2 separate regions of the Homo sapiens genome follow, and region 2 is linked to region 1. The links come from fine-mapping of genetic effects on gene expression. Tissue or cell type: whole blood. Region 1 holds a variant in brackets; the other region holds the start of a gene. All regions are shown on one strand. Distances are between the middles of the regions. Region 1 overlaps CARMIL1 (capping protein regulator and myosin 1 linker 1). Region 2 holds the start of CARMIL1 (capping protein regulator and myosin 1 linker 1).

Region 1 (8,000 bases):
ACCTGTAATCCCAGCTACTTGGGAGGCTGAGGCAGGAGAATTGCTTGAATCTGGGAGGCAGAGTTTGCAGTGAGCCGAGATCACGCCATTGTACTTCAGCCTGGGCAACAAGAATGAAACTCCATCTCAAAAAAAAAAAAAAAAAATCATGGTTAAGTTTTTAGGTAGGGCATGGTGGCTCATGCCTGTACTCCCAGCATTTTGGGAGGCTGAGGCGGGATGATCACTTGAAGCCAGGAGTTTGAGACCATTTTTGGCAACATAACAAGACCTGCTCTACAATTTTTTTTTTTTTTTAATTAGCTGTAGTCCTAGCTACTTGAGAGGCTGAGGCAGGAGGATCGCTTGAACCCAGGAGTTGGAGGCTGCAGTGAGCTCTGATTGCACCACACACTCTAGCCTGGGCAACAGAGTGAAACCCCATCTCTTAAAGAAAAAAGAAAAGAAAGATCATGATTGTTGTTGCTATTGTTATTGATGAATAATACGTTCTTGGGGAGGTAGTGTGGCTGATCTTCCACGCTAAGTTCCCTTTTCTTTTTCACCTATTTCTGCCTTATGTGATTCTTTTGCCATTTTCTTATGAAATTTTTCTAACATACAGATAAGTTGAAAGAGTGTTAAGTGAGCACCCACATACCACCACTTAGTTTCTACCATTTACATTTTACTTGCTTTATCACATATCTCTCCATCCCTCTGTCATTAGCCAGTGTTTACAAACTTGTATTTACAGAGAAAGATGCATGATAGTTATTTTCCCTGGGAAATGGAGCCCTTCCCGCTATGATTTTGTTCATCTTCTTGGCAGTGATAGTGATGGTTATGATGACACAGTAGCCAGCACAAAGCAGCACACTATTAACTCATTCAGTCTTCTAACAACGCTAGAAGACAAGTGCTAAAGTGCTAAAATTAATTTCTGTTTTACAGAAGAGGAAACTGAGACACAGAGAGGTTAAATCATCTACCCAATATTACACAGTTCCTGAGGGGCTAAGTCAGAAATCTGGTAAACACTTGAGTAAGCCTTGTTTGTTTGCTTGCTTTTAATCTGTAAAATCAGTGAAAAAAGAAGTAAGACACCATTTAGGAATAGGAAAAATAACTACTGCAGCTCTTTGTGATTCAGGTTGGTTTAATGACTACTGTGTGGCAATTGTACCAAGTGTTGGGTTTGTGCAAGTGGTTAAGTCAGGGTCTCTCCTCTCAAGCCAGTCTAATGGACAGAGCCACTATGAGTTGTTGGATTGATGTTTTAATATAAATAACCGTACTGAAATTGTTAGAAATCAAGGGTTTCAGTAAAGGAGAGTTACCTAATTGTACTTAAAAGAAACATTTATACATTAACAGTTACTATTTTGGGGTTTCTGTGAGAAGATTAATTATTCCAGCAAATGAGTACTACCTATTTGGAAATGTCTTACTGTTTATAAGTAAATATGTTACTTATTTCCTTTTGCCTTAGCAGAGAAAAATAATTTGGGGAGAAATACACCCAGGAAACCTTAAAATATATTCCGATTAATGGTAACTCTTAGACTATTTATGGTAAGGTGTATCTAATTACATTTCACAAGGCACTTTAAAAAATATTGTCCCTTCAAGTTTTTTCCCTTTATTTCTCTCCATGATTTTGTCTAAATTTACCAGCAAGTCACAAAAAAATGAAAATTAAAACCCTACTGGGGACTAGGAGCTCGCTGAATTGGCTTACATCATTGTAAGCATGGACATATTTCTGTGCGTTGCTGTCCCCAAGCCCATGCGCTGTTAAGAATATGCATTGTCGGGACGGCGGTGCAAGGAGAAACATCCTGGAGAGGACGTACAGGATACAGAAACAAGTGACTGCTGTGACATCATTAGTCAACATTGGTTGAGTGACAGAGTAAATAAGGCATCTTCTGTTATAAATGATTGACACCGCTGAAAATTTAGAAACATCTTGCTCCAATAGCAGCATTATCTTCTTTGGACTATGCAAATCTTTTCAAATTAAAAATTCAAGTTAAAAGAAACTATTTTTAATTGACCCTCATTGCGGCCATTCCTTGATCAATATCTCTGAATAAGATTGTTAACTGAACAATGCATCTTCTGGCAGAAATAGAGATAATGACCGTTTTGTTTTCACTTATTTTTCTTGTTACAAAATTTAAAAGTAACATCAATTTTAAAAGTCTTTTTGTTATACATAAGTTACATTTTGGGACCTTCTTTAATGATTGCTCATATAGTATTGCTCGCTTTTTGAATCAGTGATCTGCCTAAGCATTTGCAAGTCACTCTTAGCATTCCTCAAAAGTTGCTGTTATAAATGATAATTTTACATAGAGGATGGAGGAAATGAGAAAATTGCGTTTGTCTTCCTATTGAGGTAAGACATAAGCAAGTGGAAAGGTGGTTTCCAGCCGGGGAATGAAGCCTGTTGTTCATGCTGTTGTGTGTTGACTTGTCCACTTGGATGGCTCCTAGGATCATGCGGGTCCTTGTGACTTCCATATGTCACAGATCTTGCGTACAGTTTCTGTGCCTTGCCCTCCTCCCAGTCTTTTCTGCCCTGTGGTTATTTCTCTACTGCCACTGAAGGGTGGCACTCAAGCTTTTCCTTATATGAGATTCATCCCCTTCAGGGTATGCGGATTCCCTGTGAAAAAGCTGAGCAGGTTTATTTTGACAGCACTACCTGGAGGGCTTGCCCCATTTCTTTTCAGGAAAATTTAAAATTATTCTGCTTTTTTTTTTTAAGACTGTCTACTTCATTTTATAAGCCACAACATTATAAATACATCTAAATTTAATAGTAGAATTATAACATTGCTTTCAAAATTTCTCACTGGGTCACAGAATTACAGAGCTGAAAGAGACCTTCACCAGAAGCAAAACCATCCTGGGAAAATAAATATCATGTTTTAATTTTTTTTTTTCCTTTTTTTTTTTTTCTGAGATGGAGTTTTGCTCTTGTCACCCAGGCTGGAGTGCAGTGGCATGATCTCGGCTCACTGCAACCTCTGGCTTCTGGGTTCAAGCGATTCTCCTGTCTCAGCCTCCCGAGTAGCTGGGATTACAGGCACCCACCACCACGCCCAGCTAATTTTTGTATTTTTAGTAGAGACGGGGTTTCACCATGTTGGCCAGGCTGGTCTCGAACTGCTGACCTCAAGTGATCTGCCCGCCTCGGCCTCCCAAAGTGCTGGGATTACAGGCGTGGGCCACCATGCCTGGCCGTTTTAATCTTAAGGTAGTTTCACTAACTCATGGTAACTTTGTTTATTTTTTTGTATTAACAACCTTTGCTGTCAGTAGAAAAGTACACTTTTCTACTTCTAAAACTGCCACGGAATAATAATGGAGTCACAGCGTCCTTAGAGATGGGCATTTTTCACTCCATGCAGAGATGCGGAAATGGGCTCAGAGAGGACAAGGGGCTCACCCAACATTAAATGGCTATTTAATGGCAGAGTAGGGATGAGAACCTGTCTTCTGATTGCCGGTCCAGTGTCTTCTGTAACACATGGGGCCATTTATTTTAAGCCATCTAGTCCCCAGCTGATTAACAATTTTCATGTACAACCTAGCTCATGAGAGCGGCATCAAGGAGGAGGTTGTCATTCAGCAAACACTTATTGAGGGGGGATACCAAGATGAAGATCATGAGACACTGTCCTGCCCTCAGGGGGCTAAAACTCCAGAAAAGGTTTGCAGGCATATTTACAGCTAAGTGCTGCAAAGAATTAAGCATTCTTAAGGTTCTTTCTAGCTCAGTCATTTGAACTTCTTTTCCCCCAAAAAAACCCTTTATTTCCCCAACTCCACAAAAGCAAGTCCTTCTTGGTTAAGCCCTCATACAAGCGGAAGTGCTGGTGTCTGCCAAGGGGGCCTTGCAGGCTGTTGGGCTAATTGTGGTCCAAATCCCCTTTCAAGAGGGCATCTTCAAGCAGGTGGTCAGAATAAAATTCTTGATGGTTTTGGTAAATGGCAGCAAGTAGAGCATGAGGGACAAGCAGTCAATAGGAATGGGGACATCTGGTGCATAGGGTGGGGCAGATAGGGAGTCTGAAGGGGTAGAGGGTAAGCAATGAAAGTTGTGGCCGTAGCTGCCAAACAAAGGGTGTTTTTACATGCACTTTTGCCACTGGTTATCTAAGGAATCTGCTATCACAGTGCCTGTGAAGAGGCCATTATTTGACACATGAGGGTTTTCAGTCAAGTGAATAGCATGGTATTCACTGGGCTGCTTAGAGAAATGCTATTATCTGGATAAAGGATGGTGGTGTCTGGATTAACTCTAGTATAGTTTCTTCCTTGGGACATCATCTCTTTTCCACTAATGGACTCCTAGGTATTCCATCACTCAGCTTAATTTTCTCGGGGAATACATGAAACGTGAAATCTTAATTTTAGACACCTAAATTGGGCAAATAAGCTTTTTAACATATACATAGATTTAAAATACATTTAGGTTTATTTTCATTCAAATAGCACATGCTTTCTGTGTCTGTGTGTGCATGTGCATGCAGTGAGGGAAGATACTGACATCTTTTCTGGATTATCATTTAATATTGATGTTATTTAATGCAAATTTGGAGGATTTAAGAATATTAGAGGGGAAAAGATTACATTTTCTAAAGAATTAGAAAAGGAGCCATATCTCTGAATGTTGGGTTACTGCAAAAGAGGAACAACTGGGTAAAGAACTATTTAAAAATTAATGAACAAGGTAATTTTATATTTTTCTGGTATGGGTGGAATTTT[T/G]TACTTCCTATAGTAAGACCTAGTGATGTCATGACTAGGACCTCTTCCACCAAGAGCTCTCAACTAGGGATAATTCATTTGTTTGTATTCAGAATTCACAACTATGATAAGCCTTTTTGATGACCAGTGGCAAAGGAACATCATCAGTCATGAAAACTCACAAATAGAGAAATCAGCAAGTATATTAAAGTAATGGATATTTCTCTTGTCCCCCAAAGGTTTCACATACAGGTTTGTCATGAGTGTCCTTAATTCTAGTTAATCTGTTTCTTGTGTAAAGTGCTTACGGTGATAAATCAATGTGGGTTTTAATTACCAACTAGCCTGTTAGTGGGTGGGAAGAAGTTTGTTTTCCAAAGCTTGGTGTTAGCAAGTCCTGTTTATGTGATAATCATATGCAGACGACACAGGCTAGCTATGTGCTGGCTATGGGAATAGAAGATTTAGATCAGACGACTATCTGCTTTATACCAGACACTGTGCTGTGTGAAGTGTGACATGAACAAGCCCTTCCAGAATCATGCAAATTATTGCTCCCCATGCGAAGACTTTTATGAGTAAATAATGTAACCAAGGATATGAGCCCCAAGAGCTGGTCTGGGGTATTGATGAGAAGCATTAGCAAGGAGAGGCTCACCTCATGGGGTGCTGCAGGGAATGTGGCTTTTGAAGCTGATAATTGAGGGTTCAAATTCTAACTCTTATCAATGTTGTTGGGACAAGTTAAATTGTTATAAACCTCTTTGAGTCTTGGTTTCCTTGTCTATAACAAGAGAATCATGGTACCTTCCTCATGGAGTTAAACGTGATAAGGTAAGTGCCTTGCCACTTCTGGTTTACAGCAGTTTTCAAAAACACCCCCCTTTTCTTCCCCGCTCACAGATGGTTCAAAAAAGGAAGAGCTATTATGAACTAGTGTGTGGAGAGAAGGCCTCTGGAAGGATACTTTTTGATACTTATGTAAGCGATCCAGGATGCACAGCCTTTTGTGGCTAGAAAAAGGCCTTAGGCCCCTGGTTTTGCAGGTGTAATACAGATGGTAGGGGCTGCACGGCTACTATGACAGTCGTTCCAAGTGTTTCTGCTCAGGATTCTGGACTTGCCATTGTCTGGCTCTGCCAGAATGTGGTTGTCTACCTGCCCAGGTGAGGATGCAACCCTTGCATTAGAGAAGACCCTCAACAGCCATGGTCTCTTTGACTGGGGAAGCTAATAGGAGACCCGAATGTTCTAAGTGTATCGTGGATGGTTTATGTTTGGTGACTGGATATGAGGCAGATTTCAGGGAATGGTTGCAAATTGGTCAAATCTGGCAAAAATGTCAGAGGCATTGAAACCACATATCAAACTAAGCCTTAAGGCATTCAGAAAATATAACAGGCTGACTTCTAAGAAGTGAAAAATATAAGTTTTGTTTAACTTATTTAACTAAAAAATGATGCTAATGAATGTGGAGGGGTGATTTGGATAGAACCTGTTCTGTGTGGGGCCTTCATGTAATCCCTAGAGAACGTGTAAATCAAATTATGCCTGGAGGAAATTTTATTTCCAATTTCAGTTGCTTTACTGATATGTTAAGGGAATTAAAAAATATTTAGCTCGGCCTTTCAGAGAGCTGTTATTACTGGTTGAACTATGACTGTTATTTTAATTCTCATTAGATAACTAGTATCTTTTGAGCTGTTGTTAGCTAGGCTGTGTGCTAAAAAGTTTTATATACATCCTCTTATTTAATCTTCACGACACTTATAGGAGGTAGATACTACATTATGTGTTTTTACAGCCAAGGGTGAGGTGTAGGGGATCTGATAATTCGCTCCAAATCACACAGCTAGTAAATGGTGGAGCTGGTCCAGGCGTGTCTGTCTTGAGAAGCGCTGTACCATTCACCTTACAATTATATCTGTAGGTATTGTCTGACTCATAGAATCCATGCAGTACATCTGTGCAGCTTCCATTTCTGTCCTTAGCCTCAATTCCTTTCTGTCTTTAGTTCTCTATCTTTACCTTAAAATCTCCATGTAAATCATGCTAACCTAGCACGATCCATGGTGCACCCACTTGGCATTTTCAGGGAAAAGGGATAAGGCCTATAAAGAAAGTCCACACCCAGCGCCTGGTTCTGCCTGTGCCCATTCTGACTGCTTTATCTTCAGTGCTTTAGATGAATGTGCATCTTCCTGGATGCTTTTCCTTCCTGCATGATTTGGAAGAATTAGAATCAGTCTTCCTTCCATGAGTTTCCCAGGGAATCAGAGGGACTTTTTAAGCATAATGATGGAATTTTTATTGTCACCTTTTGTTGTAAAATGCTCTATAGATGAGAAATAGATTATATCCATCCCCCCACCAGCTGTGCTTCATGGTAATGGCCAAAAAAATGTTCAGAATTAAGACTGGGAATTTTTTGAATTCATATCCCAAAGCTCCTTTAAAAACTTATAACTTGGGGAACTAAAACAAAGTCATTTTAGAAGGAAATGGGTTTTTCTCTAATAATGGCCATCAGAATGATTACCCAAGTGATGTCACACAGCTGGCAACCTTCTTAGGGAAGGTAACTGATAGCAGAGGAAAGTCTGCCTTTCTCTATGTTAGCACTTCAAAAACCAATTGTTCCTAGAATCTTCAGTGTCATCATGAAACATATATAAAGCCTCTGCCTATTGTTTGAGTCTCCTCTCACTAAGAGGAACCATCAATTCAGACTTGCCCAGACTCATTGAGAAGACCAGGCTAACCAAGCCATCCTTAAGAAATTTTTCTAAATTCCAAGAAGCAAAAGAATATATTTTTATTATTAAATAGCTAACATACTTACTTTAGTTTAGATTTATGATATAGTTCTAGTTTTAGGGTTTTCCTGCATATTGTATGGTACTTTTATCTCCATATATAATATATTTAGTATATTTATGCTTATTTCACAGGAACTAATAACATTTATACAGTTTTGAATTATTTTAACGGTTCACATTTGTTTCACCTTTGCTTTTATAACATTGTTATGTCTCAGCTCTTAATTAATAATGTTGCAGGGATGCAATTGCTAATTTTAATATTCCCCCCCAGAAGAAACATTTTATACACAAACACACACACACAAAATGTATATGTATATATACATACACACACAAAATGTGTGTGTTTATAGATACACATATAAAATGTGTATATGACATTGTGTGTGTATATATATTGGAGTAAAAAGCAAGGATAGTCAGCTCCTATGTTTGCTT
Region 2 (16,182 bases), 120 kb before region 1:
CGCTGACTCAACATAATTGTGAATTATTTGTAAATTTCCTATTCATCAAAGATGCAGCAGATTTGCGAACAGAGTTTCTAGCTAGATAGCCAAGGGAATCATGGGGCTATTAGACAGCTAACTTTTTTTCTTAAGCTTATTGTTTATTGGAACCAAAGATAAGTTGTTTCAAGGCTAGGACCTCCGGAATGACTCAGTTAAAATGAGCCAGAATTCAGAATTTAGAAGCCTCAGAGCCAGCTTACCTCACTTCTTAAAAATATTTGGAGGAAAACACTAGGGAACTGAGTTGTAATGGGGAGGTGGGTAAGAGGAGTAAAACCCTCTTATATACCCTTGAGAGCTGTTTGAACAGCAAAGATTCCCAAAACAGGGACAAACTATTTCTAGGGATAATCTATATATGCAAATATAACTGTTTATTGAATGAATTCGTCCATATGGGAACGATTATGATGCTTCAGGACATGGATGATTTCACTACAATCTCAAGAGTTCAGTTAAAGAGGAAAACTTTCCATCTGCAATCCAAAACATCCCACACTTTTCTCTAGTAACAAATAGGGAGGTCTCAAAAGACAAGTTATCCTTTTTAGGAGATCTCCACAGCCTGAACTAATGAGCAACTGAACAATAATAATCTCATTTTTATGACAATTCATGTGACGACATTGAACAATGGGAAAATAGGAGATAAGCAATGCTGATGAAATGTGTCAGTGGCTTAGCATCATTGATGGCTATTATTATTTTTACTTCTTATGTGGCCAGATTTTTTAAACAGAAAATTTGGAAAGATTTCTCAGACTGCTATTTTCTCTTTTTAGGTTGACTTATTTATTGCCCCCACTTCAGAAATTACTTTTTGAAATTGCCCCAGATATCAGGTTCCAGAGGACAGAAGCAAACAACAAAGGTTAATCCTGAGTATACAGATATTAATAAAAATAGAAAAGAAATGTGAAAAATAAGTACATTCACTAATAAAAGTAGTTTAGTATTCTTTTTGTGATTGATCAATATGCTAAAAATACAACACACACACACATACACAACAAAGTTAGTAAAACTAAACAAAAACACGTATCGCCCATCATTCAGCATTCACAATACAATGATTTGCTGAAATTTCTCTTAATTTTTTCTATGTTTTATGCCAACTTTATTGTGGTAGCAGATTGTGGTATATTCCCTCCCCTAGAGCATGGAAGGGACCTGTAAATATGATGGGATCTTTCATTATTAGGTTGTGTTATATGTAGTACAGATGACTTTAAGAAAGAGGGACTAGGGTGAGGAGGAAAGGGAGGGAGAGAATTAACCTAATGCATGCAGGGCTTAAAGCCTAGATGACAAGTTGATGGGTACAGAAAACAACCATGGCACTTGTATACCTATGTAACAAATCTGCACGTTCTGCACATGTATCCCAGTACTTAAAGTTAAATAAATAAATAAATAAATAAATAAATAAAGAGAGAGAGAGAGAGAGAGAGAGAGAGAGAGACTAGCCAGGTGCAGTGAGTGGCTCACGCCTGCAATCCCGCACTCTGGGAAGCCAAGGCAGGCAGATTGCTTGAGTCCAGGAGTTTGAGACCAGCCTGAGCAATGTAGTGAAACCCTGTCTCTACTAAAAATACAAAAATGTTAGCCACGCATGGTGGTGTGCACCTGTAATCCCAGCTACTCAGGAGGCTGAGACAGGAGAATCACTTGAGCCTGGGAGGTTGAGGCTGCAGTGAGCCAATATTGTGCCACCGCACTCCAGCCTGGGCAACCACAGTGAGACCCTGTCTCAAAAAAAAAAAAAAAAAAAAAAAGAGAGAGAGAGAGAAAGAGAGACTATACTTGGTGGTCCTGACCTGTCCAGGTGAGTCCTTAAAAAGGACAAGTCTCTTTCTGGTGAAAGAGGTTAGAAGCATGAGAGGAGTTTGATGCAAGAGAGATTCTAGCTTTGCTCACTTTGAAAATGGAAAGGGGCCACATGCCAAGGAAAGTAAGCTGGCCCTCGGAGCTGAGAATGGGCCCTGAGTGACAGCCAGCAAGGAAACAGAGATTTCAGTTCCATAATCACAAGGAACTAAATTCTGTCAACATCCTGAATGAGGTACAAAGCAGATTCTTCCCAATAACCTACAGAAATAAACATTTCTAGTAATATATATATCATTCTGAGAGTTATTTTATCTTTTCTGATTTCCAAAAATAGAATCCCCATGGAATCTGAGGTTAGACAACTGTATGCCTCCTGTTACCACAAGTACACACTCTTTTGTGTCTAGATTTCTTTTTCTTAGCATAATGTTTTTGAGATTCATCCATATTGCCATATATAATATTAGTTCATTTCGTTTTATTGCTGAGTGTTTCTCTCTCTTTATTTTATTTTATTTATTTTTTTGAGACAAGATCTCACTCTGTCACCCAGGCAGGAGTACAGTGGTGGGATCATGGCTCACTGTAGTCTCGACCTTCTGGACTCAGGTGAGTCTTCCATCTTAGCTTCCCAGGTAGCTAGGACTACAGGCACACACCACCATGCCCAGCAAATTTTTTTTTTTTTTTTTTTGAGACGGAGTCTTGCTCTGTAGCCCAGGCTGGAGTGCAGTGGTGCCATCTTGGCTCACTGCAAGCTCTGCCTCCCAGGTTCACACCATTCTCCTGCCTCAGCCTCCCGAGTAGCTGGGACTACAGGTACCCACCACCACACCTGGCTAATTTTTTGTATTTTTAGTAGAGACGGGGTTTCACCGTGTTAGCCAGGATGGTCTCCATCTCCTGACCTCGTGATCCGCCCTCCTCGGCCTCCCAAAGTTCCGGGATTACAGGCGTGAGCCACCATGCCTGGCCTGCTTAGGATTTTCTATGTATACAGTCATGCCATCTTCAAATAAGACAGGCTTTTCTTCCTTTCTGCCCATTATGTCTTTCATTTCTTATTCTTGCCTTATTAGTATTGCTAAGACTTCTAGCATAATATTGAGTATAAATAGGAAGAGTAGATACTCTTGTCTTGGTTCTGATTTAAGGAGGGAAGCATAAGGGGGACTAAATGCTTCCACCAGTAAATATAACATTACTTATAGGTTTTCCATAGATTCAATTTATTAATTTGAGGAAATTCTCCTCTATCCTAGTTAATGAGAGTTTTTATTTTGAATGGATGTTGAATTTTGCCTTATGGTTGTTTGTGTGTGTAAAGAGATAATTGATGTGACTGTTTTTCCTTTTCTTTATGGGATGGTTTTTATTTTGAAATTCAAATGTCTTTCGTAGATTTAGGGCTTTTCAGATTTTTTCTATTTCTTCTTGAGTCACTTTTGACATTTTTATCTTTCAAGGGATGTGTAGGTTTCATTTAACCTGTAAAATTTATTGGCATAATGTTCTTCATAATATCTCCAATATTATCCCTTTTAATATTTGTAATCATGTCCCCCTCTCATTCCTAATATTGGTCATTTGTGTCTTCTATCTTTTTGTCTTGATCAGTCCACCAAGTGTTGCATAAAATTTAATAAATTTTTTTGCAAAGACCCAGATTAAGTTTTACTAATTTTAAAAAGTTATGGGTCCAATTTCAATTTCATTGATTTCTGCTATGACCTGTATTATTTTCTTTCTTCTATTTACTTTGGATTTTATTTTCTCTTCTTTTCCCAGCTTCTCAAAGTCTCCACCAGATGCCCAAAATGAGAACAGATGACTTCCCACTTGGACTGGTCAGAACTCAAATATCTCTCTGCCCTGTGTGAGCTCTAGAAGTAGTTCACCTTACAATTCTCCAGTGGTTTTTGCCTGCCCTTGTGGAGTTTCACCTTATTCCTGTCTGGCCACATACACAGCAAAGACTCAAAGAGACCCCTATGCAGATTTTTGGAGCTCTTTTCAGCACAGCTCCCTCATCTCTAGAACTCTACCTCGTAACATTCAGCCCCCTTGGCCTCTCTGATCCCTACATCTGCTTGACTCAATAGACTCTGTTTAGGATCCCCCTCTTTGCATCTACAGTCTGGTTATTTCCAGGAAGATATCAGGGGCAATCATAGTGATCACCTTGTTTGTTTCAACTTCTTTTAGTGATTAAATCTTGTCCTACCTGATGTCCAATGTTTGAAAAATAAAAGCTTTTTACGTTCTGCATATTTTTCTGGGTTTTTGTGGGAGAGAATGTCCAATCCTTGCTATTCCATTGCAGCCAGAGGCAGAATTTCTCTCACTACAGATTTTTGAAGTTTTCTTTTACTTCCATGCTCTTCTATGTCCCTTGTTGGGGTTTGTTTGTTTTGGTCTCTGGCTTTCATGGTAGAGGCTTTCCTCAAATGTCAGTGTGCCTTTGATGTCTGTATTTACAGTGAGGCATAACAAAGCTGATCTGAAGCTTTACATGAATGGGCAGGCTTTGTCAAATGGTGGGTCTCAATTGAGGGGGACAGGTGGGGACTTGACCTATTCACTGGCCAGTCCCTGTAGGTCAGTATCTCATAGGTTTTTCATTTAAAGATGATTAATAACATAGGAGAGGAATTCTCCAATTCTCTGACTGGAATTATAAGCCTTGCTGCTAGACTTCTGATAACTAAACAGAGAATGAATTTTTGAGGGGCTTATATTTAGGAATATTTCCCTTTCCATATGGTATGGCTTCTCACTTTCACCCTCTGCTGTTCCAAGACTAGGTCTTTTTTGGTTTAACCTCTCCAAAGAGTTAACTTCCCATCTGAGGCAGCTGTGCAGGGGGTGCATAGACTGGCTGTGTGAGGTAGGGGAGGGAATCTATGGAGTGTCTAGAGCTTTTAAAATCTGTACCAATCCTCCTTCATTCTGTACTTCCGCATTTAGAGATAACTTATGTATCTAGTTCCTGAGATTTTTCTTGGATTCTGCTATAGAAATTAACTTGCTTTTTATTCACTCTCTCCCCGGAGGGTTAGAGTTTATCTTTCACTAGTCTGCTAAGTCAGCTACCATGCATCTATTAGCTTTCTCAGATCCAAAATGTTGAATTTTCTTGTTTGTTACTATCTCCTATTTTCTTTGTCCTTGTGGCTTTATGCTTTTTTTTTTTTTTTTTTTTTTGAGATGGAGTCTCCCTCTGTCACCCAGGCTGGAGTGCAGTGGCATGATCTCAGCTCACTGAAATCTCTGTCTCCCGGGTTCAAGCAATTCTCTGCCTCAGCCTCCAGAGTAGCTGGGATTACAGGTGCCCACCACCATGCCCAGCTAATTTTTTTTTTTTGTATTTTTAGTAGAGAGGGGGTTTCACCATCTTGGCCAGGCAGGTCTTGAACTCCTGACCTTGTGATCCACCTGCCTCTGCCTCCCAAAGTGCTGGGATTACAGGCATAAGCCACTGCACCCAGCTGCTCTATGCATTTTTATATAAATTATTAGGCTTCTTTTTTTTGAAAAGTTAAAAACTCTTTAATTCTTTATTCCTGGTACCACTATCACAATTTACAGGGCCATACACCTGATGTAACGAAAAGAAAAAAAAAAGTTACAACAGATAAAAGACTTCAGGAATGTACATCTAATTGACACTACATTGCATTAATCAATAGCTGTATTTTTTGCAAACTGTGGTTATGACAGTCCTGAACAAGAAGGGTTTCCTATTTAAGCTGCAGTAACTTTTCTAACTATGGATAATTGTTCCTTTTATGGCAGATTTTTCCAGTTCCTCTAATGCATTTGAGACGACTGTCTCAAAGTAACCTGCTGCTTTCCTGGTAACTCCTCACTTTAACTCCTGCTAGGAACTGAAGCCCTTTTTTGCTGCTTTTTAGAACCTTCTGTTATTATATCCACCACTTTTACCACCAGATCCATAATCACCACCATAGGGACTGCCCGAGCTTCTTCCACCCAGAAAGCCTCCTTTCATGGGTCCATAATTTGATTGCTGTTGTCCACTATAATTTCCAAAATCACTATACTTCCCACCACCATCATAGTTACCACTGTCAAAATTTCCTCCTTCATTGCAACCATCACATCCTCCACCATTGCCACCATATCCACCACCTTGGTTTTCATGTCCTGGTCCACCACCACCATAGCCCCTTATTTTACTATAACCAAGACCACCACCATAGTTGCCACCATCACTTCCAAATCCATTATATTCACCATCACCTCCTCTGCAACTATCTCTGCTTCCAGCACCTCCATCATAGCCTCCTCTTCCACCAAAGTTTTCACCACAGCCAAAATTACCTCCACCGCCTCCAAATTTTGCTCTGTGACAATTACAACTTTATCAACTGTATTATGATCCTAAAAAGTTATGGCAAAGCCAGGTGCAGTGGCTCATGCCTCCCAAGCACTTTAGGGGCCAAGGTGGGAGGATCGCTTGATCCAGGGAGTTTGAGACCAGCCTGAGCCACATAAGGAGACCCCATCTCTACAAAAAATTTAAAAATCAGCTGGGTGTAATGGCACATGTCTTTGCTCCCAGCTACTTGGGAGGCTGAGGTGGGATGATTGCTTGAGCCCATGAGGTTGAGTGAGCTATGATCAGGCCACTGCACTCCAGCCTGGGTGATAAAGTGAGATCCTGTCTCGAAATAAAAAATAAATAAAAGTAAATTTTAAAAAAGCAAATCCCCTCTTTTTTCCACTCTGCCTGCCTTCCATAACATCTATGGTTTAAATAGTGCCATACTTTTCTTTCCTCTCTCTCTCTCTTTCCTTCTTTTCTTTTTTTGAGACAGGGTCTCTCTCTGTCACCCAGGCTGGAATGTAGTCGTGCAATCTTGGCTCACTGCACCCTCTACCTCCCAGGCTCAAGTAATCCTCCCATCTCAGCCTCCCAAGTAGCTGGGACCACAGGCACGTGCCACTATGCGCGGCTAATTTTTGCATTTTTTTGTAGAGACGGGGTTTCACTATGTTGCCCAGTCTGGTCTGTCCCAAACTCCTGGGCTCAAGCAATCCACCCACTTCGGCCTCCCAAAGCATTTGGAATTACAAACGTGAGCCACTGCACCTGGCCTTGCCATGCTCTTCAAATTACATTCTTCTCTATCTTCCTTGATATCACAAACAAAGATTTTCTTCATGGTTAGATGGGCACCAGGCCTTATAGAATCCTCTCTAGAAACAGCTCTCTTTGGTTCCAGTACACACCTGTCAGCCTTGTGTGTCCACCTCTTTAACACGAGAGTAAGTCACAAAACCAAAGCCTCTGGAATGTGTTGTTTGGGAGTCTCTCATTATCACACAGCCTGTGAGTATGTGCCATTTCTCAAACTATCGTCTGTATTTTCAAAGCTGTGAACACAGTAAACAGTTTTCTCAAGTGCTCTGGTTCCTTTGGATCATGTGCCTCCATTTTGAGCCCGGACTCGCCTTTTCCAAATTGAGTTCAATTTGGGACTGAGAGGAAGAGCAGTCTTCTTTTTTAAGAATAGTTTTAGGTCTACAGAAAAATCGAGCAGAAAGCACAGAGAGTTTCCATATGCTTCCTACCCCAGCGGTGTCCCCTATCATTGTTTTGCATCAGTGTGGTACATTTGTTGCAAGTAATGGGCTAGTAATAATATTGATACAACATTATTAAAGTCTATAATCTACATTAGAGACTTGATGCTGTTTTATTCTTCTCCTCTCATTGGAAAGTGGCAGAAATAAATGTAAGTATTAAATCTTCGAGGGTTAACAGAAAGTCTTCTATGTAGGCCTTTGGCTACTTCTCTCCTTTTTGTCACCCTCAAAATTCTAGAGTCATATGTATTCCCTTTTTCCCTTCATCTTTTCCATCTCTTCATTATGCTTCAACCCATTGTACTTTATCTTCTCTGTCATTTTACTAAAATATATCTTTCCACAGAAAACAATACCTCCTTTATTACTAAGTTCAAGTATGCATTATTATTCCTTATCAAATTTAACTTTGTAGCAGCACAGGACACTGTTAACCCTTTCTCCCTTCTTGAATTATTTTTTACTTAACTTCCCAACTTGGTATCTTACCTTCCTGATTCCCAGCTACTCTAATCATTGATCCTTTACTTTCTCTACATTAGCCCCATTCTCTCTCTCTCTCTCTCTCTCTCTCTCTCTGCTTTAGCCAGTCTCTAAGATGGTCCTCAATGATTCCCAACTCTTGGTATTCACATTCTTGTGTGTCACCTTCCTCCATTGACCTGGGTTGATCCATGTGACCAGTAAAATAGAACAGAAGTGATGGTATGTCATTTCCAAGATTAAGTTATAAAAGATGTTGCATTTTTTTTTTGTCTTGGTCTTGCTCTCTTTCTCCTCTAGACTGCTCCATGAGGGCTGCATGAAGCAGCCACATAATTTACCATTACAACCTCTGGCAAATAGTAAGTGCTCAACTCATATTTGCTGAGTCAATTTATATAAGAACCTTTCCACATTTTATTGCTTCCTCTCTCCCCCTCCTACGAATTTCTATAGCACTTACTGAACGCATTTTGACATCTAGCACATTTTGTATTTATTATTTTATAAAAGGGCTTGGCTCAGTTGAGCCTTCTGAAGGAATGTTCCCTCACCTACTATGTGGCTGGCACTGGGCTAGTTGCAGGTCAATCGAAGCTCATCTTGATCATCCTCCTAGAGAAGGAGCTCCTTGTAGGTGAGTGGGGCCAAGCCCTGGTCACCTGTATGCTTCCCAGGGAACCTAGCCTAGGAGCCTGTAGAGTAGCATAAAAACGATATTAAAATGGGTTGGGTGTCGTGGCTCACACCTGTAATCCCAGCACTTTGGGAGGCCGAGGCTGGCGGATCACTTGAGGTCAGGAGTTTGAGACCAGCCTGGCCAACATGGTGAAACTCCATCTCTACTAAAAATACAAAAATTAGCCCCATGTGGTGGCACACACCTATAGTCCCAGCTACTCTCCTTGGGAGGCTGAGGCAAGAGAATCACTTGAACCCAGGAGGCGGAGGTTGGAGTGAGCCAAGATCGCGCGCCACTGCACTCCAGCCTGGGTGACCAAGCAAGACCCTGTCTCAAAACAACAACAACAACAACAACTATAGTAAAATGAACATTTACCTGGAAATCTCAAATTCTGAGTTCAATCTTTGACCCTTAAGGCTGTGACTCTGGGCAAGTCACTCCACAAATGTGAACTTATTTCCTCATTGTGATAAAGATATAGTAATTATACTTTTTACCCAAGGAGTCACTGGGTAGCTCAGATATGTCAAACCCTTATTTCCTCACTTGTCATAGGTCACTTATTGTCAGATGAATCATGGATTTCATAATATATTTTGCATTTGTGTTGGGAATGGGGTGTGAAGAGCATGATTTTAACCATCTATATCAATTATAAAACATTCAGATTTCAGTAACTTTAACATAAGAAAATGTTTCTTTGAATCAAGACAACACGTTATCTATTGAAGTGTTCAAGTGTTCTGAAGTTGGAAAACCATTGTAAAACTGGGAGCTCTAATTATGTCACATTCAAACAGATGTGTTCTGAATTAATGACTGAGTTGATTTTCCTCTTTTTTGTTCAGTCATGTGTTAAGGATTCGTTCTGTTTTATTATTGTTATGAAACATTGCAAACACATACAAAAGTGAAAGCAATGCCTTCCCATGGATCTGATATCCAGCTGCAACAAAAATCAACACAAGGTCACTCTGATTTCATCTATATCTCTACTCAATACTCTCCACCCCCCACCATCCCTATGGGCTATTTTCAAGCAAATCTCAGGTCTCATATAATTTCATTTGTAAATACTTTAAAGGAGTATTGTTTAATAGCCATTTACCTTCCACCGTCTTCTAGTCAGAGATAAACTAAGTTTTCTTAGAGGTGTTTGCAAGCTTAGTTCACATTGCCTACCCTCCTGAAAGATCTTTATTAACCAAGTTGAAAAATACACCTTCTTAAGAAGGCCCCTTCCCCAATGGTTACTGGGGGTGGAAGGTAATCTTAAAATCATTACTTGGGGAGTAAAATGCTGGTGGTTCCCACATTTCTGAATACCTTTCCATTTTAAAACCAGTTCTTAATGCAGTAGACGAGATCAGAAACTGACCTACGTAAGTTTGTGATTTTTTTTTTTGTTAGAGTGCTGATTTCTTCTTAACTTTTTTGTTTGCTTTATCTCCATGGGTTTAATCATTACATGATATGGTTCTAATGATAGCATGTTGTGTCATTTTAGGGACACTATTTTCTGCAAACTTTTTTACTCAGAGTGTTTTCTGACCATAATGCATTACAAAATGTACTATATAGATGTGAATATATGCTTAGAATTAAAAATAAAAATCCATGGATAAGTTTTCAAAATAATGTTGCCACTCACTGTATGTTTCAAAAGAGATGGGGTTTCACTATGTTGCTCAGTCTGGTCTGTCCCAAACTCCTGGGCTCAAGCAATCCACCCACTTCGGCATCCCAAAGCATTTGGAATTACAAATGTGAGCCACTGCACCTGGCCTTGCCATGCTTTTCAAATTACACTCTTCTCCATCTTCCTTTTCAAAATAATGTTGCCACTCACTATATGTTAAATGTTAAACATTTTACAGATTCAAATGCAGTAGGGATTCTCTGAAAAAGTTTTATCTTACTAACAGCTTTCAGATTATCAGTACTAGTTGTATGGCTTAAACACAGCCACATGTAAATACTTACTTAGATGAAGCTATGGCTAATCACATATGTAACACAATCAGTTTCATGTAGTGGTTTGATCACTCGTGTATTCAAGACTATATAAACAGGGATGAATTTGAGGAAGTTGGAGTGATGGAGTGAGAAAAGTTTGTTTTTGCAGCAGTAGCAGTAGAAGGGGCAGGCCGATTCAGTAAACAAGCACACATTTCAGAATGCAAACTGCATTCTCCAAGCTGGCACCATGGTTTTACGGTGCTAGGGATGTTTACTGCTTGTTGGGTTTGCAGCTTTATAAACAGTGCTCCTTGGAGTTCTCTGCTTGCTATTCTGAAACATATTTGAGTTTTGCAACCGAGAAGTAAATGACTTTGATTTCCAAAATCAGTCAGTCATTTTTCAGTGTTGTGATAGGAGATTCATTTGAATTCACTTCTTCAGAGATGCAGGAGCCAATCAGGATCCTGTTGCAGTGAAAATGATTCTTTTATTGAAACCCCAGCTTCCTTTAAAAGAAGCCAAAGAGTACTGAATTACAGAACTGCCATACAGCCTTCCCTTTATTCTTTCCATCACCCAGGCCACAGGAAAAAAAAAAAAAAGACAAACTTTTGTTCTTATTTTCACAAGTTATCACATGGTTTGGAAACTTCAGGGCATTTCTGAAACTTCATTGGTATGTGCCAGAAAAGTCCTCTTTAACACACCAGGTTGAATGAAAGACAGTTTGAGATGTTAATTTCCATTTACTGCAGAAAAAATATATTTAATGCATTAAGGAAATGTCTAGCTTAAAGAAATTGCCCACTTTTGAAACAAATGGTTGGAGGCCTGAGGTCCAAAGCTCTAAAATCAGTTAACAAATGTTTATTGAACACCTATTTTGAACTAGGCTGTTGAAGAAGTTCAAAAGTCTAAGATAAATTCCCACTTTCAACTCACCTACAGTCTAGTTGGGCAGAAAAAATCCAAACTCAGGGGACAATGCAAGAGTTAGATAGTAAAACCAGACAAATACACAAGCAATGAAACACGACACCATATGGTTGGGTTTAGAAAAGTGTTTCAGGCAATACATATTGTAGAGGCTTAGGGATCACAGTAATCTGAAAATCCCTGGAAAATATTCACAAAGAAGGTAGACCATTGGGATGGGTTTGAAAACATAGATAAGAATCAGATAACCTTAAGAGGAAGGAGGAAGCAAACAGTGAGTCTGGTTGTAATAGAGAAGGGAGTGGGAGAGGTTAAGGAGGGTGGGAAGGGGCCAGGTTGGCAAATCCTTAGTGGTAAGGCCTGGCTGTGGGGCTGAAGATGATTCTAAGGGGTCCAAGGTCAACAGCAGTGTTTAAAATTAGATTGCCAAGTGCATGGATTCCCTTTCCTTTCCTCCTTTTCTGTCCTTTAAAAGCAGAACCTGATTAGACAGTCTGGGACATTCCCAGCCCTAGGCTAAAAAGCAGCGATTGAGGCACAAAGTATTCTTGGCCCTGAAGTTGAACCTCTGGGGATGGAGCTCAGGGAAGTCATAGGGAGTTTGGGCCCAGGTAGGATCAGACCTATCCGCAGGCTTACATAGGCTCCAGTGATTAAAGCTCAGCTTCCTGAATATGCCCCGAGGATAAAAGAGACTTTTCCGAGTGAAAGGCATTTTCCAAGGCGCTCTCAACGGGAATGTCTGAGATAGCGAACTGCGGCTGCAGAGCACCAGCTGAACGCACACACACAAGTGTCTTCTCACGGTATGATTAGTGTTCACAGGTTTCGTCTAGCTCATCAGAAATGAAGAATAGCGATGATGAAGTGACATGTCACCGGGAGGGTTGAAAAAGAAAAAGTGCGTAAGAGGGTCCCAAAAAGAACCAGCTTCCGTGTAGACGGGTCTGCAGAATCTGCCGTCTCCCGTCTTCTGGGTCCCCTGGCCCGCCCGGAGTGGGGACAAGGAAATGGAAAGCCCGGCTCACCCGGCTCTCCTCCCTCGCAGCCAGCAGATGGCTCCCGGGCTCTCTCGCGAGCCCGCTCGCCCCCTCTCCAGACGCAGGGCTTTTGCGGTTTGGGAGGGAGGCTGCGAGGAGGGGCGCGGTGCCCGCCGCCGCCACCGCAGCACCGCACAGCGTCTCTCCTGGGGGTGCGACCTACGCCGGGGACCCAGCGCTCGGGCACCGGAGGCCGGCCTCGCACCGGTGCGGAGGCCGGCTCTCGCGAGGTGAGGAGGAAACGCAGGAGGAAGAGGAGAAGGAGAAGGAGGAGAAGGAGGAGGGCCGGAGCTGCCCCCGCCCAGCCGGAGCCCGGCAGGAGCGCGAGGAAAACCTACTCCCCCCGCCCCGCGCCGCTCTCCCCGCCCTCTCCCACGCCTTCCGCTTTCACCTAGGGCTGTAGGTGCGGCGCGGAGGCTGGGCGGGAGCTACGCCGGCCCAAGCCCCGCCGGGGACCAGCGAGCCGGGAGGAGGAGCAGGCGCCACAGCCGCCCCGCGCCCCGCGCCCGCTTGTAATCCGGTCCGCTCCTTATTCAGCCGCCGGGAACTGCGAGGAGGCGTCATGTAGCAGCAGCAGCAAATCCGCCTCGCATTTGCAACTCTTTTTTTTTTTTTTGGTGGGGCGGGGGGCGCGCGGCAAAATTCTGTCTCCGCCCCCCCTTTTCTTGCCCACTTCCATTTGCAAGCTGCATCTGCCTCTCTAAAAAAATTGAGGAGTTCGGGGAAGGGCAGGGGGCCATAAATCAGAGTTGGACCTGCAATAACCCCCACACCTACAGGGCAACCATGACCGAGGAGAGCTCTGACGTTCCCAGGGAGTTGATAGGTAAGATTCACGCGGTTGTTGGTTTTCCACCTTCCTCTGCGTACTCCTCACCTCTCTCTCCCTTCCCACCTCTGCTTTCCCGCAGGTCTCGAGAAGTCTTGGCGCCCCTTAGGGCAGAGTGGTGTTGGGCAGGGTCACTGGGGGTGCCGGGAAGTTTGTTCCCATCCGACCGCCTGTAGAGCCAAGTGCAGAGAGGGAAGGCTTCGGGGAGGAATCGGGAGTCCTCGGGAGGTGGGTGGGAGGAGGGTCTCGACTGTGAGCCCTGGGCACCTCCTCTTGCCCGGAAGCGGGGATCCAGGTTGGCGAAAGAAGGGGGCGGGCCATCTTAGACTTGGGAGTTCTGCAAGCGAGGGGAGCCCTTTACAGCTCCCAGCCCACTGCCCCAAACTCGGGAAAGTCCGGGAAAGCCTATTGGAAGGACAGGTGGCGAGCGCACAGTAGGTCGTCTCCGGCACGTGTCAGGCGCTTTCCTGAAAATGCCCCGCGGGAGGTGATCTTCTGACACGCAGACTTGGGGGAGTGGGCGCTAGTCTGGTAAAATGACTGGGCTTGGCAAGGTGTGGCTTGGTGTAGCCAGCTGGGAGCGAAAGGGTTACAGGGCTGACGCAGACTCAGGCCAGGAAATAGAGGGTTAATGATAAAAGCCTTATTTTAATAATGATTAACCTACCGATTCTCCCTATAGGGGATCTCTTAGGGAACCCGTGTGTGTTACGCTGTGCAAGGTGACCCATTGTTTGAGTACCTTGAGGTTTTTTTTTTTTTGGTGGTGGTGGGGGCGGGGCTGGTTAAGTCTTGGGGTTTAACTTAATTATCTGGAGGGTTAAAATGGCAGAGCTGAAATAGGATGGGAGAGTGTTCTGAAAACCTAGCGTTTAAGCATGTATATGTGTGTAGCATGTTATACTGTAACAAGGTATGTGCGTCTGTGTACAGATGTGTTTTGAGCCCTAGTGACCTATATTCCCTCCTGTACCATTCTTGGCACACTACACAGCCTACAGCTCACAAAGATGATGTTTAATCGGCGCTGACAACAAGAGGAAGTTCTGAGCACCCGTTGATCTCCATGTGTGGAATTTGCCCCTCTGTTGTTTCTTTTAGCTAATAATACTTTGGAGGAATTTGTGTATGCCCTTCCGTTGGTGACTGTTAACTCAGCAGGTAAAACTTGATGTAGAGAGGCTGTTGCTAGGTTTGTATGGAAGCCCCTACTTCTGCTGAATTACAGACAAACCTGATCTTTTACCAGAATTTACAGTATGAAATTATTCACAGACGCACGCGCGTGTGCGCGCGCGCACACACACACACACACACACACACACACACACGCACCTCTCATCATGATCCCAGCAGATCCTCTTCTCTCTCCCCAACCCTGTGGAGTCTGCATCTTTTGCTGGAGTGAGTGACACATCCGGTTCTGGGAGGCTGCGACCTTTCCAACACCCCAAGCAAACGCCAGAGGCTCTGAAGACGCCTCCAGAGGTCCTGAGAATGAGTGTAGGGCAGGGCTTGCCTGGCTGGTCAGGGGATAAGGATGGCTAAAGTGGGTGGCAGATTTTTACTTTATATAAGGAGTTGTCCTTAAGTCTGGAAATGGAAAGTGTAGGTAATTACTTAGGCCCAAGAGAAAGAGTGAAGGGTAGAGTGGAAATAAGGTGTCTGGGTTTCTATTCATGGTTCTCAAAAGGAATAGTTTGTATATTTTAAAAGTTGAGTTTGACCTTTATCTTGAAATGGAATTTTTGTTTTTATTAAGTATTGCCTATCTCTTTCAAGAGAGTGACATATTATGCCCGATATGATTTTTCTGGGCCTTTCAGTGGTCAAGTTAGGCTGGGATAGAATAAATACCTGCACCTGCTTTCCTCTAAATTCAAGTGCTCACAAGAGTTCTGCTCTGATCAATTCAAAATGGCGACCGACCACATGAAAACCTCTATATATTCCCTTAAGATTCCCTCAAGATATTTAAAAAGTGTTACAGACTTGGCTGAGCGTGGTGGCTCACCCCTGTAATCCTAGCACTTTGGGAGGCCGAGGCAGGTGGATCACCTGAGGTCGGGAGTTGGAGACCAGCCTGACCAACATGAAGAAACCCGGTCTCTACTAAAAATACAAAAATTAGCTGGGCGTGGGGGCACGTGGCTGTAATCCCAGCTACTCGGGAGGCTGAGGCAGGAGAATCACTTGAACCCGGGAGGCGGAGGTTGCCGTAAGCCGAGATCAAGCCATTTCATTCCAGCCTGGGCAATAAGAGTGAAACTCCATCTCAAAAAAAAAAAAAAAAAAAAAAAGTGTTATAGACTTTATGTAGAAACAATTTAAATGTAGAGAAGAATAAGAAGACTATATGTCACTCCTGTTACCACTTAGAGGTAGTTATTTTAAAGGGTATATGATTTTCCAGTCTGTTTCCATGTGTATATGTTCTTAAGTCAATTTCAGATGCCCATTTCCCGCAATTCTTTTTTAGGGGAGGGAGGAGTGGCCTGTGCTTGTTTCTCGAGTTCTGATAAGATAGGAGCTTTGTGAAGAACTCATAGTGCAGTGAGCTCTTCTACATGTTCCCTTGCCCCAAACATTCCACCTCCTTGCTGTTCCTTGAACAGGCTGTGCTTTCTCAGATTTCCATGCTGTTCTTTATGCGTACACTGTCTTTTTCTCCCCGTTTTCACTCTTTATCTCAGCAGCTCTAAACTTTCATGGCGGTATTTCCAAGAAGAAAATTTTGATTACCCCTTATTAAACATATA

What was found. PIP is the estimated chance that this variant, and not a neighbour inherited with it, causes the effect.
Region 2: it holds the start of CARMIL1, and the variant in region 1 is fine-mapped to the expression of CARMIL1 in whole blood (INTERVAL, PIP above 0.99).

The regions. Positions count from the first base shown.
Region 1 is chr6:25,393,429-25,401,428 of GRCh38, forward strand. All of the region lies in intron 2 of CARMIL1 (capping protein regulator and myosin 1 linker 1), which reads left to right. The region is part of intron 1 of LOC124901281 (a long non-coding RNA gene); the gene reads right to left. Among named protein-coding and RNA genes, the nearest start is that of CARMIL1, 120 kb to the left of the region's middle. The variant T/G (reference allele first, on the strand shown) is at 4,762.
Region 2 is chr6:25,266,416-25,282,597 of GRCh38, forward strand. It overlaps CARMIL1 (capping protein regulator and myosin 1 linker 1), which reads left to right and starts at 12,959. Exons shown (of 37, transcript NM_017640.6): 1 at 12,959-13,420. The coding sequence starts at 13,381. It also overlaps the pseudogene HNRNPA3P17. RefSeq lists a silencer at 12,687-13,156.